Homo sapiens: one gene and its partner. The protein of the gene in region 2 interacts with the protein of the main gene of each other region in a pairwise test. Each region holds a gene or a part of one and is shown on either strand. Other genes may lie near its edges.

Region 1 (7,028 bases), on a different chromosome or scaffold from region 2:
ACTGCCACTCACCTGGATGAACTATTTCGAGCATACTCAGCTGCAATTCTCGGGAAAGTCTCATGGCTCTCTGTCTTTGAAGTTGCAATTGTAATTTGAGGTCCTCTTCTTCCTTCTGCCTATTTATCTCCAGCAACATCTTTGATCGTTTGGATCTGTGATGGAAACAGTGTGTTATACATAATTTTCATAAATCATATGAAAAAATGCATAACCTCACTAGTAATCAAATAAATGTAAACAGAAAAAATTTTAAGATAATTTCTAGTGTTAATAAGGTATGATAAAATAGCTTGTCATCTGCTGCTGTTGTGCAATCTTTCTGTAGAAATATTTGAATATATGCATTAAAAGTCTGGAAAAATATTTGAAATATATAAATAAAAAGCCTTAAAAGTGATGACCAATTAATTCTATTACAAATAATTTTCTTAAGGAAATAATCAGATATATATGTAAAAATTTATGTTCAAAAATGTTCTCCACAGTATTACAACAGTAACAAGTTGAAAACAAACTTTGTCTCACAACAGCGAGTTGGATAAACAGATACTGGTTCATTCACCTGATGGGATGGGATTCTATGAACTATGAAAACATAAAATGTTCGAAGAATATTTAGTGACATGAGAATATACTGATGATCTAATGTCAGGTAAAAGGAAAATCAGGATATAGAAGAATGACATCAAAATTGTGTCAAAAAACTTACATTTACTTACACAAAAAAAAAATAAAAAACATTAAAATTTCAAGTGATTTTTACTGCATGATGTAATTACAGTTGATCTTTATTTTCTTCTTATGCCTATTTCTCAATTATTGACAACTGAACATTACTTTCATAACTGGTTATGAAAATTTTCATGTGACCACAAACATTTTATATAATTATAATTTCTGTATTATCTGCTTTTATTCACCAAAATTTCTCCTTAGCCATTCCCATCTAGTTTTTGTTGCTTCCAATATCACTATGTAAGGAGACTACAAGTGTCAGTTTACAGTAAATATACTCAAAATGCTTTCAGACACCCACAGAAAAAGAAAACGAGGATAAGAAGAAAGGCAGAATAAACTACTTAGTTTACCGCTATAGACTTAATTTGACATGTGTCTCCCTCAAGAACATTTTCTCTTAGATCTTTTTTTTAAACTGTATTCTTAGAATTAAACTGTAAACAAATGTGGTACCTTGGCTATAGCTTTGTACTCTTAATAGTCAGACTTCATTATAGTATAGTTAGGATTATTATGATTTTTCAACTGAATTTTCAACTCAAAATAGTTTATTTTGATTTTGATAAAATTTTGTGTGCCTGTGGTTGTTTCTCATAAATTCTTCCATCAATTACAACTTAAATTTTCTCTAGCTTTCTACTTAGGGCAGAGTAGAGAATTTATTTGTTTTGAAACTTCTTTCTTATCCCTATTATCAAGGGTAGAGAAGACCTCAAAAGTGTATGTGTGTCAAAAGATTCCAGAGAAGATCTAGGGCTAGTTGAATAGTTCTAAGTGTCTCTTGCTCTTTGTGAAAGCTGGAAATGAAGTAGGTAAGGGCCTCTCCCTTCCCAAAGAATAGCTGATAGCAACTTGCCTGTTCTACAGAACTCCATCACCTCAAAACTTCTGGGTTATACAGCATGCAGATAATAATGTTTTATCTCTTACCCATTCATAGAGGGTAAAAGAGAGCAGGCCCTAAACAGAGCCTCCTTTTAAACTGATTTTTAAAAAACTACCTCTGTGGCCGGGCGCGGTGGTTCACGCCTGTAATCCCAGCACTTTGGGAGGCCAAGGTGGGTGGATCACCTGAGGTCAGGAGTTTGAGACCAGCCTGGCCAACATAGCGAAACCCCATTTCTACTAAAAATACAAAAATTAGCTGGGTGTGATGGTGTGCACTTGTAGTCCCAGCTACTTGGGAGGCTGAGGCAGGAGCTTGAACCTGGGAGGTGGAGGTTGCAGTGAGCCAAGATCGTGCCACTGCACTCTAGCCTGAGTGACAGAGTGAGACTCCGCCTCAAAACAACAACAACGACAAAAAACTACCTCTGTTTCTAACTTCTAATTGGCTATAGATTATAATGTCTAATACTGCATTATCAATATTTTAAATACCATTTTACACTATTAGTATGAAAAACATAGTAATCATTAAAATTGCATCTGCTAGAATATTTAATCTGTCAGAAAACTGGGTTTGGGAAACAATTTAGGCATGTAGGCTATCAAATATGGCAAAAATGAAAAGACTATGGAGCATGAAGGTGGAAGTAAAGTACAAACCAGAAAGACAGGACAAAAGTGAGATTTGGGCCGGGCGCGGTGGCTCACGCTTGTAATCCCAGCACTTTGGGAGGCCGAGGCGGGTGGATCACGAGGTCAGGAGATCGAGACCATCCTGGCTAACACGGTGAAACCCCGTCTCTACTAAAAAATAACAAAAAAATTAGCCGGGCGTGATGGCGGGCGCCTGTAGTCCCAGCTACTCGGGAGGCTGAGGCAGGAGAATGGTGTGAACCCGGGAGGCGGAGCTTGCAGTGAGCCGAGATTGCGCCACTGCACTCCCGCCTGGGCCACAGAGCAAGACTCCGTCTCAAAAAAAAAAAAAAAAAAAAAAGTGAGATTTGGTGATTTAAATAGGGACTAAATTGTAAACAGGTGTGCTTATTGGATTCATATGTTTTACTTTCATATCTGAAAACATTTATTAGGAACTGAAGTGATTTTGAATGTAATTCCCCCATTTATTATTAAATAACATCGAGTTATTTTGTTCAGAGTTTCTCTAATCACTCAAAAATCAAACAATTATTCTTCCAACTGGTTTCTTTGTAAGAATTAGTAGGCACTGGACCACCTGGCATCTGTACTACACTTCTGAAGATGAAATGACTGATCAGATGTCATATTCTGAAATAAGTAAATTCCATGATTTACATTTAATCAATCTGAATTTTTACCATTAAAGTGGGAGTTGACCAAATTTTCTGCTGCCAAGACACTGTGCCTCAGAGGGAGAGAGAGAAAAAAGATGCTATCTGCATTTAAGAAGCTCAGTTTCAAGATGAAATCAACAAATGTAATTAAAACACTTAAAAATCAGCACTATGATAGAGGTAGGTAAATTGTGAGGTTTCTCTAAGATAACTAGAGCAGCTGTTAGCCGCTTCAGAAAACCTTGCTGAATAAGAGTACTTAAGAGACAAAGTTTCTGAATACGAGAAATGACTAAATAAAAAAGAAACCACTATGAAAGTGCATTAGCAAGGGCGTGACTATAAAAGAATGCCTCTTGCTGAATCTAAAGAACACTAATCAACCTGGACCCATAAGTGTGACCAGTGGGCAGTCTCTCTCCCAAAACCATGGGAAGGGGAAATTACTGAGATAAGTCCTGAGCACAAAAAGACAGAAATAACCTTTGAAAAAAAACCAAGCTACAAAGGAAGCAAGAGACATTTGCATGAACTGTTACAACTAATAGAAGAGCGAAGGTGCTGAACTGGAGAAAACTGAAAATTAAAAAATTAAATAGAATCCAACAGGTTAGAACCGCATTTCAGTATATTCTGGAACCTCAAATGCAAAAATACTGGAAAGGCAACAAACACAAAATGTGAGACTTAAATAATTTTTGCTTCACAGCTTATCTTTTTAATGGAAGTATTTATAACTCTTCTGGTTACATAAAGAAAGCAATGGAATTTCTATTTTAAAATAATGGAATATTAGATTCCATAGATACACTTCTAAGTAGAAAAAAATCTGTAATCCTGGGCTACTTTTAAATAGAGATTTTAATATTGAAAGAGAGAGTATATGAGCAAATTTGGGAACTCTTGTGGGACTAAACATTAATGCTCTGAATCCATGTATAAGGGTACCCTTAAATTTAAGATGACAGGTAACTAAGGATGATAGCAGGTGGAATCCATAAGTAATACCTACTCTATCTGAATTCACCACAGAGGCAATACCAAGAGCACCTCAGATGCTTTGGGTAGAAAAATATACACTGTGACTCAAAAAGTACTCAATATTTCCCAAATTTATCTAACCACAGAAATGCTTTTAAAAAAAAAACAGCTTGTAAGATAGGCAATAAACTTTGAGTAATAATAGATGGATAATACTTGCTTCTCATTAGTACTACCTATTTAATGCATCTATTTGTTTACCTAGATTTGTAAATTTTCAAGGACAGAAAATGTGCCATATGCATTTTTCCTTCTATCATTTTTTAAGTGCCAGATAATATGCTAAAAACTTTGTATTATCTCAAATTTTACATTATCTTGATCATACAAGTGTATAAACTATTATTCTCATTTTATAGATTGGAAGTTTGAGGCTGAGAGAGGTGGGGGATTGTCCAAGTTCACTCAACCAGTAAGCTGCTCAAGTGAGATACAAACTCGAATCTGTTAAATGCCTAGTACATATATCATATACTAGGCATTTGATATATATTTAAAAATTAATTCTTTTCTTTGCTACCAACAATATTCATGCCCAATAATATTTAAAATCCATCTTTAATTCTTCCCTGAAGAAAACGTTCATCAATTAATAGGATACCCACTAAGAGACACAGTTAGCTAGAGTGATTTCAATGTCTTCAACTCTGTGACTACATAGTATTTTGAACCCCAGAGCTATTTTTAAATGTTTTTATAACTGAGAAATGCATCTGCAGTTATTAAAAGAATAGTTTCAGTTTTCTTTAAAGAATTAACTTCTGTAAAATGCCAGTTTCATTTTAGCAAACTAAAGCTTGGCTTTAAGTTAGGCTGCATGAAAAAGTCACCTCTGAAACAGATCTTCTTTACCATAAATTACCTAGAAGCTAAGTTATTTTTTCTTGTTCTGTGACCTTGGAGGATCTGGATTGGTTAAGTCATTGCAGAAAGTGGGCTATGTCTTCAGTATTTCCTTTTCAGTCTACTTGAAATAAATGCCGAACTATATCATAATTCAATGAAGATATCCATCCATGCCATATTTATTCAGGAAAATCAGGTTAACAGACTTAAACTCTTATACGCATACATGTTATTGTTATAATTATACACACGAAATTATGATAACTGTTGGTTTAGAGGGTTTAATAATATAACTATCATTGGCTCCCTTTGTAGGCTTGGCCCCTCCCCAAATATCTTATTAAGTGGATAGGATTGCATATTTGACACATCAGATTCCTGTCTTACATCCTTTGCTTTGAAAGTGCATCTGGTTACTGGAGTGTTGGTACCCAGAAACGTATGGAAAAAAAATGAAAAGATAACAAGAAACATACTAGGAAATTAAAAAAAAATCACCTAAATTTCAATTCAACTGTACTCTAGTAAGATTCTATGATCATCAATCCCCTCACCAAATTTTTTTACCTGAAACTCCTCTGCAAAGCAATCACAGCAGATGGAAGCTTCTTTAATCTCTTTCTTGTCTGAAAACCCTTCCAATAGGCTTGAATCAAGCATGCTGCTTGATGTAGTTTCTGAAATGCCGAAAATAATTTAGAGATATCTCTAGGAAGGTCTTTAAAAAAAAAAAAAAGTTTACCTCTTAAAGTATCAGGTTAGGGCAAATATTAATCTCTAGCTCTAACAAGATGGGTAAGAATATTAAACCTTACCTCCCAAAGGAGGTATGTTAGGCTTGGTAAGGCAATTTCTAGAACATACTCAAGATATAGTCTAGTTAGCTCCAAATTCTCCCAGAATAATCTCACTTCCATTTCCTTTTCAAAGATTTCATAGTCCGCCTGACCTTTCATAATCTTTTTTGAGCTAACATGTTAATGTTTTTACTTAATAGGCAATCAACCTAGTTAGGTTCAAACTATAAGCTCTGTTGACCATTGTGGATGGTTGCTCGAATCTCTGTTTAGTTCTGTAAGCTTTTGATATGCTATTCTCCTGATAGACCATTGGGCTTAAAAGGTCAGTGAGCTGTCTGAGTTCTTGACTGAATTCTGTCCCAGTCTCCTGTTTACTTAATAGACTTCTGAGTCCTCAAATGGAATGGCAAAGGGTACAACTATTAATAATAAAATATAGTTTTATGATTTTGTTACCTAATCAATATGAATTTGAGCATATGCATAGTTTTGAGATTAATCTAAACTCACGATGGTTCATATATACAGAAAAAAGGAATTCCCTTCTTCTGCACTCTTCCTTCCAGCCTCCCCCAACCCATTCTCCTGCCTTACTGGACTTATTTTCATGGTTTCTGCTTGTATTTTTAAATTTATTGTCTTTTTGGTTTTGGATTTTGGATATACAATGTCCCCTTTTCCTTTTAAATTAAAAAATATCTTTAGTCATTTTAGATGTTTTCCATATTTAAGTCTTTATCTGGAAATCAGAAAGCAATATGCCTCTTCCTGTTGAATGGGCTATTTAGAGCCATCATTTTGAGTATGCTAGAGGAAGTATGATGAAATAATCAATAACTTGCTGCCTCAAATTTCTAAATAATTTTATTAATACCATTTCTTACACAAAGGAAAAGGCATTATTGTTGTATCTCAAAGAACAAGAAGGGTAGCCATAGGTAACCATAAATACAGTTTGCTACAATTAGAGATTTTTTTTGGAAAAACAGTTTTAAAAGTTTAAATAGCTTATAGATAAAAGAAGATAAACATCAGAGATGGGGCTTTCATGAGAAATGATGAATGAAACTGATGTGGCAGTATTTATAAACAGATGTAAATGGGAGATTGAAATTATGTTTTCCAGCAGATTGAATGGCGGAGAGATACAATTTTGTAACATTATATTTTAAAGATGGGGTTTTGCTATTTTGACCAGGCTGGGGTGCAGTGGCTACTCATGGGTGTGATCATAGGGCAGTCTCCAATTCCTGGACTCAAGCAATCCTCCTGCCTCAACCTCCTGAGTAAAAAATTTAAAGATATTTCTGTTTTGGGGGTATTTTGCTTGAAATCTTAAGAGAAAGAAAGTGAGGAACATTTAAGGAAAACTAAGGTTTAATATAGTCAGCAAATATCA
Region 2 (7,237 bases):
AAAATTCTGTGAGTTTTGAGTCTTTTCCTTTTCTCTCCTCCATATCCATATATCCTTATCTACGGATCTATATGTTTTCCTTTGTGTTATGAAATTAAGATCACATAATATACCCCACTTCACATCTACCTTTTATTTAAATGTACACCATGGAAGTCCCTCCAAGTCAATTAGTCGTAACATTCTCTTTTTTTTTTTTTCTTTCTGAGTTTAGGAATGGAGGTTTAATAGGCAGAAGAAAGAAAGGAGAACAGCTTTCTCTAGTGAGAGAGAGGGGCTTCTGAGAGGAAAAGCAATTAGTTGTAACATTCTTTTTAATGACTGCATAATATTCCACAGTATGGAAATATCTGAAGTCATCAATTACCCTATTAATGGGCATTTAATTTGCTTCCAGCGTTTTGCCACTACGGATAGTACTACAACGAATGCCCTAGTACTACACGCTCATGTTTAACACTTTTTTCTGTGGGACACAGGTCTAGGAGTAGGATTACTGGGTTCTTTTAATTGTATTAAAAAATAAGGCAGGGGGCCATGGCTCACGCCTGTAATCCCAACACTTTGGGAGACCGAGGCGTGCAGATCACAAGGTCAGGAGTTCAAGACCAGCCTGGCCAACGTGGTGAAACCCCATCTCCACAAAAATAAGCCAGGCATGGTGGTGAGGGCCTGTAACCCCAGCTACTCGGGAGGCTGAGGCAGAAAAATCACTTGAACCCGGGAGGCAGAGGTTCCACTGAGCTGAGATCACGCCACTGCACTCCAGACAGGGCGACAAAGTGAGACTCCGTCTCAAAAAAAAAAAAAAAAAAAAGATAAAATACCACTTCCTAAAAGGACAGAAATTCACATTTCCATGCATTGGTAACTTGAAAAGATGAAAATTACTATAAACGTAACACTACTAGCAATAAATTTGACAACAATGAAAACAGTTAACTTCAGGCTTAATTGCTAAGTCATATCGAAACAAAAGCTATTCTCTTTAAAACAGTATTAGACATTCAAATGTACATGACAATTCTGCCGTCACAGACTCAAGTTCATATTCTATTACACAAACACTTGTGATGAGCACTAGAGGATAAGCTATATTTGTAGCAATGTTATGTTACCCATTATCTTTTACACTTTAAGATTACTTAGAAGTATTTTCTTTTTTTTTTTTTTTTTTTTTTTGAGACGGAGTCTTGCTCTGTCACCCAGGCTGGAGTGGAAGTATTTTCTTTCCTATGTTTTTAATATTTAAAACCCAGTAACATTAACCATGCTATTTACTTTTTTTTTTTTTCTGAGACGGAGTTTTGCTCTGGATGCCCAGGCTGCAGTGAAATGGCACGATCTCGGCTCACTGCAACCTCTGCCTCCTGGGTTCTAAGCGATTCTCCTGCCTCAGCCTCCCTAGTAGCTGGGATTACCAGCGCCCGCCACCACGTCCAGCTAATTTTTTGTATTTTTTTAGTAGGGACAGGGTTTCACTACGTTGGCCAGGCTGGTCTCGAACTCCTGACCTCAGGCGATCCACCCACCTCAGCCTCCCAAGGTGCTAGGATTACAGGCGTGAGCCACTGAGCCTGGCCTATTTAATTATTTTAAAATCTGTTTTTTCTTTCTTTTTTTTTGAGAAGGAGTCTGTCTCTGTCGCTCATGCTGGAGTGCAATGGCATGATCTCGGCTCACTGCAACCTCCGCCTCCGGGGTTCAAGCGATTCTCCTGCCTCAGCCTTCCAGGTACCTGGGATTACAGGCGAGCGCCACGATGCCCCGCTAATTTTTGTATTTTTAGTAGAGACGGGGTTTCACCATGTTGGCCAGGATGGTCTCAAACTCATGACCTCAAGTGATCCACCCGTCTCGGCCTCCCAAAGTGCTGGGATTACAGGCGTGATGCACCGCGTCCGGCCTAGCTATTTTAAATTTCTTAGCTTAATAAAAATGTTTCGGCCGGGCGTGGTGGCAGGCGCCTGTATTCTCAGCTAATCCGGAGGCTGAGGCAGGAGAATTGCTGGAACCTGGGAGGCGGAGGTTGCAGTGAGCCGAGATCGCGCCATTGCACTCCAGCCCGGGCCGACAACAGCGACACTCCGTCTCAAAAAAAAAAGTTTCTGTCTTCAGAGTTTTCTAATTAGACTAGAATAATATGACTACTCTGCAAATGAGAGTAGAAAACAAACAAAAGGCCCTCTAACAATAACACTAACCTTGCTGCTTAGCCAAAACTAAGTTGTAAAACAGCCAAAGGCTGCTATTTGTACTGTTTTCCAGGGCGTTTTTCGAAAGACAATAAATTCCGAATACCTAAAATCATTCTAACAAATGGACAGAACAGGCTTTCAAACCCAACACTAAAGCAAGGTAAACAAAGCTTCACACTTGGCACTTTACCGAAATTAGATCCAATTATAGATATATGCCTCAAAAAATAGCGACTAGGTCATCCTGAATTCATCGGGTTCCTCTATATTAGCAGTTCTGTGGAGTGAACGCCCAACTCAGCCTTCAGATGAATTCCAAAACCGTACTTTCCTAAACTTAATCACCACAGAAAAAACACAGTCCCGCTCCACTGGCAGAAGGCAGTGACGCTGCAAGCTTCCAGGCATGTTAAATTCCCAATTCACGGGATTAACAGGAACTGTCTACACAAGTGCTAGTCATTACCTTCCAAACCCCCGAGACAGAAAAAGATGGCACTACGGTAAGAGCCATTACTGGTGAAAAGTCTCCCTTCTCCGTCCAGCGCACCCCAAGAGGGACTACAGTCCTAGAACAGGACCTGTGCTGCTAAGTATCCAGACTTGCCCCAGGCGACCAGTTCCCGGGACAGTAAAAAGGGGACCGTGTCGCCCCGCCCACCCTGAGACGCTCGGCACCCAGCTCCGCCTCTCTCCAGGAACCGCTGCATGGGACAAAAGCCACCCGCCAGCTTGCCTTGCCCTGCGGCCGGGCAACTAAAGAGAATCTCGGCGCTCACCGTCGCGACTCTCTCCTCAGCCATTTTAGCTCAGCCCACCGCTGCGCGGCCGGAAGTCGGCGGTTTCCCAGACGACGAGGCAAGCGGAAGTCGTAGGGCTGTGGAGGACTGTGAGGAAGCGGGGGAAGGAAGTAAATCGCCGAGTGACCTAAGGAATCAGGGGGAGGATTAGGGTCTGCTCCACAGAAGGCTTACCTCTGAAAGAGTCGGGGAGGGAATGCGCAGCCACTCGCTGCCTTTATCCCGAGAAGCCCCTAACACCCCTCGCCGTGGTCTGTACATGGTCTGTACCTCCGGCCGCGCTGGCTGGTAGGCCAGCCACCTGGGATGGCAGCCTAGTTCTCCCGCCACCTTACCCTGCCCTGACTCTAATCTGCATTTAATTCAGTCCTTCTTCCGGGAGATTTCGGCGGAGAATTTCTTTCTCGCCTTAGGTACAAAACTCCCCGTTTCTTGGCTGTCACTATCGAACTGAGGTACTCACCTTATCAGCTTCCCACTCTTGTTTACTCCAGAGTTTGCAAACATGCTCCTGGTGGGCTGCATTTGAACGGCAGTCTTTTGATTGGAAATATTTAAAAGTTAGGAGATTTCACAAGAAATCGGCCATGGGATAAAGAGACGACAGTCGGCGTTTTCTGCAAGGCAGTGAAATAGATCTGAATAGCGGCTGCGACTGTAGATAACTTCCCTTCCTAACATACTTAAGGCGTTCTCCATTACCTGTCTGGCCCCCGGTGCGGTGAATTAAATGTTTAGTGTTTCTAAACTAGGAAAACGTGTGGGCTTTGGAATCAAACATGAGTTCTGAATTTGACTACTGCATGACCTAAGCCCGTCGTTTCTTTGAGCCTCATTTATTAAAGTGCCGGGAGCTGTGTGATGAACAAAACGGAGGATCCCTGCACCTGAGCACTGACATTAGCCCCAATTCATACTTTTAAGTCTCGCCCTTGTAATTTAGACATAAAATCTGCCTCTCCCAATTCATTAACTGGGAAAGCATTTAAGACAAGTTTCTCCAGGCCTCTAAGAGAGGGAGAACCCCACTGACAATTAGAGTTACATAGAAGAAACAAGTACGGTAATCTATCCAAATACAAGGGGAAAGGACAGCAATAGAATAACAGCTCTTCTAAGTATTTCAGTAACACTCTCTCTTTTAATCTTTATAACAATCCCATGAGACTGTTGGTCTCCCACTTTTTTCAGATAAATACTCTGCCTTTCATTTATTAAAAATAAAATTTTCCAGCTTGGCCAGCATGGTGAAACCCCGTCTCTACTAAAAATACAAAAAATTAGTCGGGCATGGTGGTGCCCGCCTGTAATCGCAGCTACTCGGGAGGCTGAGTCAGGAGAATCACTTGAACCCAAGCGGCAGAGGTTGCAGTGAGCCGAGATCGCATTTCTGTGCTCCAGCCTGGGCGATAGAGGGAGACTCCGTCTAAAAAACAAAAATTTGCTGGGCTCGGTGGCTCACGCCTGTAATCCCAGGACTTTGTGAGGCTGAGGTGGGCAGATCACCTGAGGTCAGGAGTTCAAGACCAGCCTGGCCAACATGGTGTAACCCTGTCTCTACTAAAAATACAAAAAATTATCCGGGCGTGGTGGCCGGCTCCTGTAATCCCAGCTACTAGGGAAGCTGAGGCAGGAGAATTGCTTGAATCCAGGAGGTGGAAGTTACAGTGAGCTGAGATCATCCCATTGCACTCCAGCCTGGGCAACAAGAGCAAAACTCTGTCTCAAAAAAATTTTTTTTCAGAGGCAGGGGTCTCACTATTGATGTCCAGACTGGACTTGAACTCCTAGGCTCAAGTAATCCTCCTGAGGCAGGAAAATAGGGTCTGGAGGTAGGGAACATAAGGCCAATTCACACTTCAGCTATAACAGGTAATATTCTGTCCATAGGGCATAGGCCATAAATGTCTTTGTAACTTTACTTCATCTTCTCTATTTACATAAGGCATACCCGAAGTAACCATGGAATCCTCTGGGGTTATTTAAACTCCCCAAAATTCTGTAACGGAGCCACTGAACTTCTAAGCTCAGGCCCGCTCCCACACTGGAGTGTACTTTCATGTTCAGTAAATTCCTTGTCCCTTCCTTGCTTTGTTTGTGCATTTTGTCCAATTCTTTTTTCAAGACACCAAGAACCTGGACACCCTCCACCTTTAACACTTCCACCTCATCCTCTCAAGTAGCTAGGATTACAGGCACCAGTCACCATGCCTGGTGCTAAATTCTCCACTTTTCAGAGATTAATTAAACACCTTGCCTAAGTGAGCCGAGATCGTGCCACTGCACTCCAGCCTGGGAGACAGAGCAAGACTGTCTCAAAAAAAAAAAAAAAGATATAAAGATGAAAAATTATTAATTTCTAATCCACAGTGCTTAGTTTTTTTGTTTTTGGGACAGGATCTCGCTCTGTTGCCCAGGCGGAAGTGCAGTGGGACAATCACGGCTCACTGCAGCCTCTACCTCCCAGGCTCAAGTGATCCTCCCACCTCAGCCTCCTGAGTAGCTGGGACTACAGCTTCATGCCACCACACCCAGCTAATTTTTGTATCTTTTGTAAAGATGGGGTTTCATCATGTTACCTAGGCTGGTCTCAAGCTCCTGAGCTCAAGCAATCCAGCCAACTTGGCCTCCCAAAGTGTGGAATTACAGGCGTGAGCCACCCCGCCCAACCCACAGCGCTTAGTTTCATGCAGTTTTTCAGTATTCCAGTCCTCTTCATGGGCGGGGTTACTACGCAACACTGGCAGTCTAGGAAGAAATCATTCCAAAGGATCAAAAAAAAAAAAAAAAAAGGAGGAATTGAAGCTAATATCTTCTGCCCTATTCTTTTTATCTTCTACCCTATTTTTTCTTTTAACACATATTCTTTTTGCCACTTTCAAAAGACTGATTCTCAATCTGACATGTCACTCCCTGTTCTCTTCAGTTACCCTTTAGTTCTGCTGATGTGGGGAATCCCCAACACTCCTCTACAGAGAATATACAACATCCAGAACAAAATTTTCCAAAGGCTTCTTCACTAAAGTGTAAGAAACTACTTTCATCTTTTCCTTCAAAGATGCAACAATTTATTTCAGGGACTAAATGTCCAAGTTCCCTTTAACCACCAGATCAAAAAACATTCTAGAAAAACTCCTCTATTATTTCCACCAAATGATAAAAAGTAGAAGCCATTACGTCTCCTTTTTCAGAGCAAAGAACTACAGACTCAGGCCTAGTCCATTTACATGACTGTCTGGGGGTGCCTGCTGCAGTCAGGAGGGCCAGGTGGCAGCTTGGTCAGCGGTGAATAGCGAATAGACTGCAGCATTCTCCTTATAAAGGATTTACTCCTCAATTCCAAACCTTTCCTCAAGGGATTAACAGAAAAGCCAGTAGATGGTGAAACTTAAGTGGGGAATGGATTACAAAGGCTAACTGGTATCTGTAGATGGCTATATGAACATGTAACTTGCAAATACAGAAGAATACATAGTTAAAGTGTTGTCTAGACATCTGGATGAAGTTTTCATTTTATTTTATTTTATCTTATTTTTAGACAGAGTCTCGCTCTATCACCCAGGCTGGAGTGCAGTGGTGCGATCTCAGCTCACTGCAACCTCCAGGTTCAAGTGATTCTCGTGCCTTGGCCTCCCAAGTAGCTGGGATTACAAGCGTCAGCCACCACACCTGGCTAATTGTTGTATTTTTAGTAGAGACAGGATTTCACCATGTTGGCCAGGCTGGTCTCAAACTCCTGACCTCAAGTGATCTGCCTGCCTTGGCCTCCCAAAATGCCAGGATTACAGGCATGAGCCACCATGCCTAGTGTGGATGAAGTTTTAATAAGGTATAATAATGTCCTTCATATCAGAGGTGTGGAAGAAAAGGAAGAGGATGGGGAAATGAGAGAAGAGCATCTTTTCTGGGGGATTTTTAAAATACATATTTCTACACAATAAAGATTTGTTTTTCAAATAAATAAATTACTCTATAGCACCCTTATATACTGTCAGTTCAATAAGTTGTTAACATCTTTTGGAAGGCATCTGGCATTATAAATCCTTAAAAATGTGCATACCCTTTGATCAGTTCTATTTCTGAAATTATATGCTAAGGAAGCAATCAAGAAAACAAAGATTTATAAGAAGAGTATTTACTACACATTTAGTTTGGATAATTAAAAATAATACTTTAAAACTGGAAAGAAAGCTGGGCCCAGTGACTCGCGTCTATAATCCCAAGGCCCAGTGACTTGCG

Evidence for each region. Proteins that work in one complex are often made in the same cells at the same time.
Region 1: the proteins of BBS4 (region 2) and IQCB1 interact in binary tests that used the Homo sapiens proteins (3 or more experiments, as listed by UniProt).

What each region holds. Positions count from the first base shown.
Region 1 is NC_000003.12:121,790,061-121,797,088, forward strand, and holds part of IQCB1 (IQ calmodulin-binding motif-containing protein 1), read right to left. Parts: intron 5,507-7,028; coding exon 5,397-5,506; intron 156-5,396; coding exon 13-155; intron 1-12. UniProt on the Homo sapiens protein: Involved in ciliogenesis. The function in an early step in cilia formation depends on its association with CEP290/NPHP6.
Region 2 is NC_000015.10:72,681,992-72,689,228, reverse strand, and holds the start of BBS4 (BBSome complex member BBS4), read right to left. Parts: upstream 3,023-7,237; 5' UTR 3,002-3,022; coding exon 2,978-3,001; exon of another isoform or gene 2,713-2,977; coding exon of another isoform or gene 2,665-2,712; intron 1-2,664.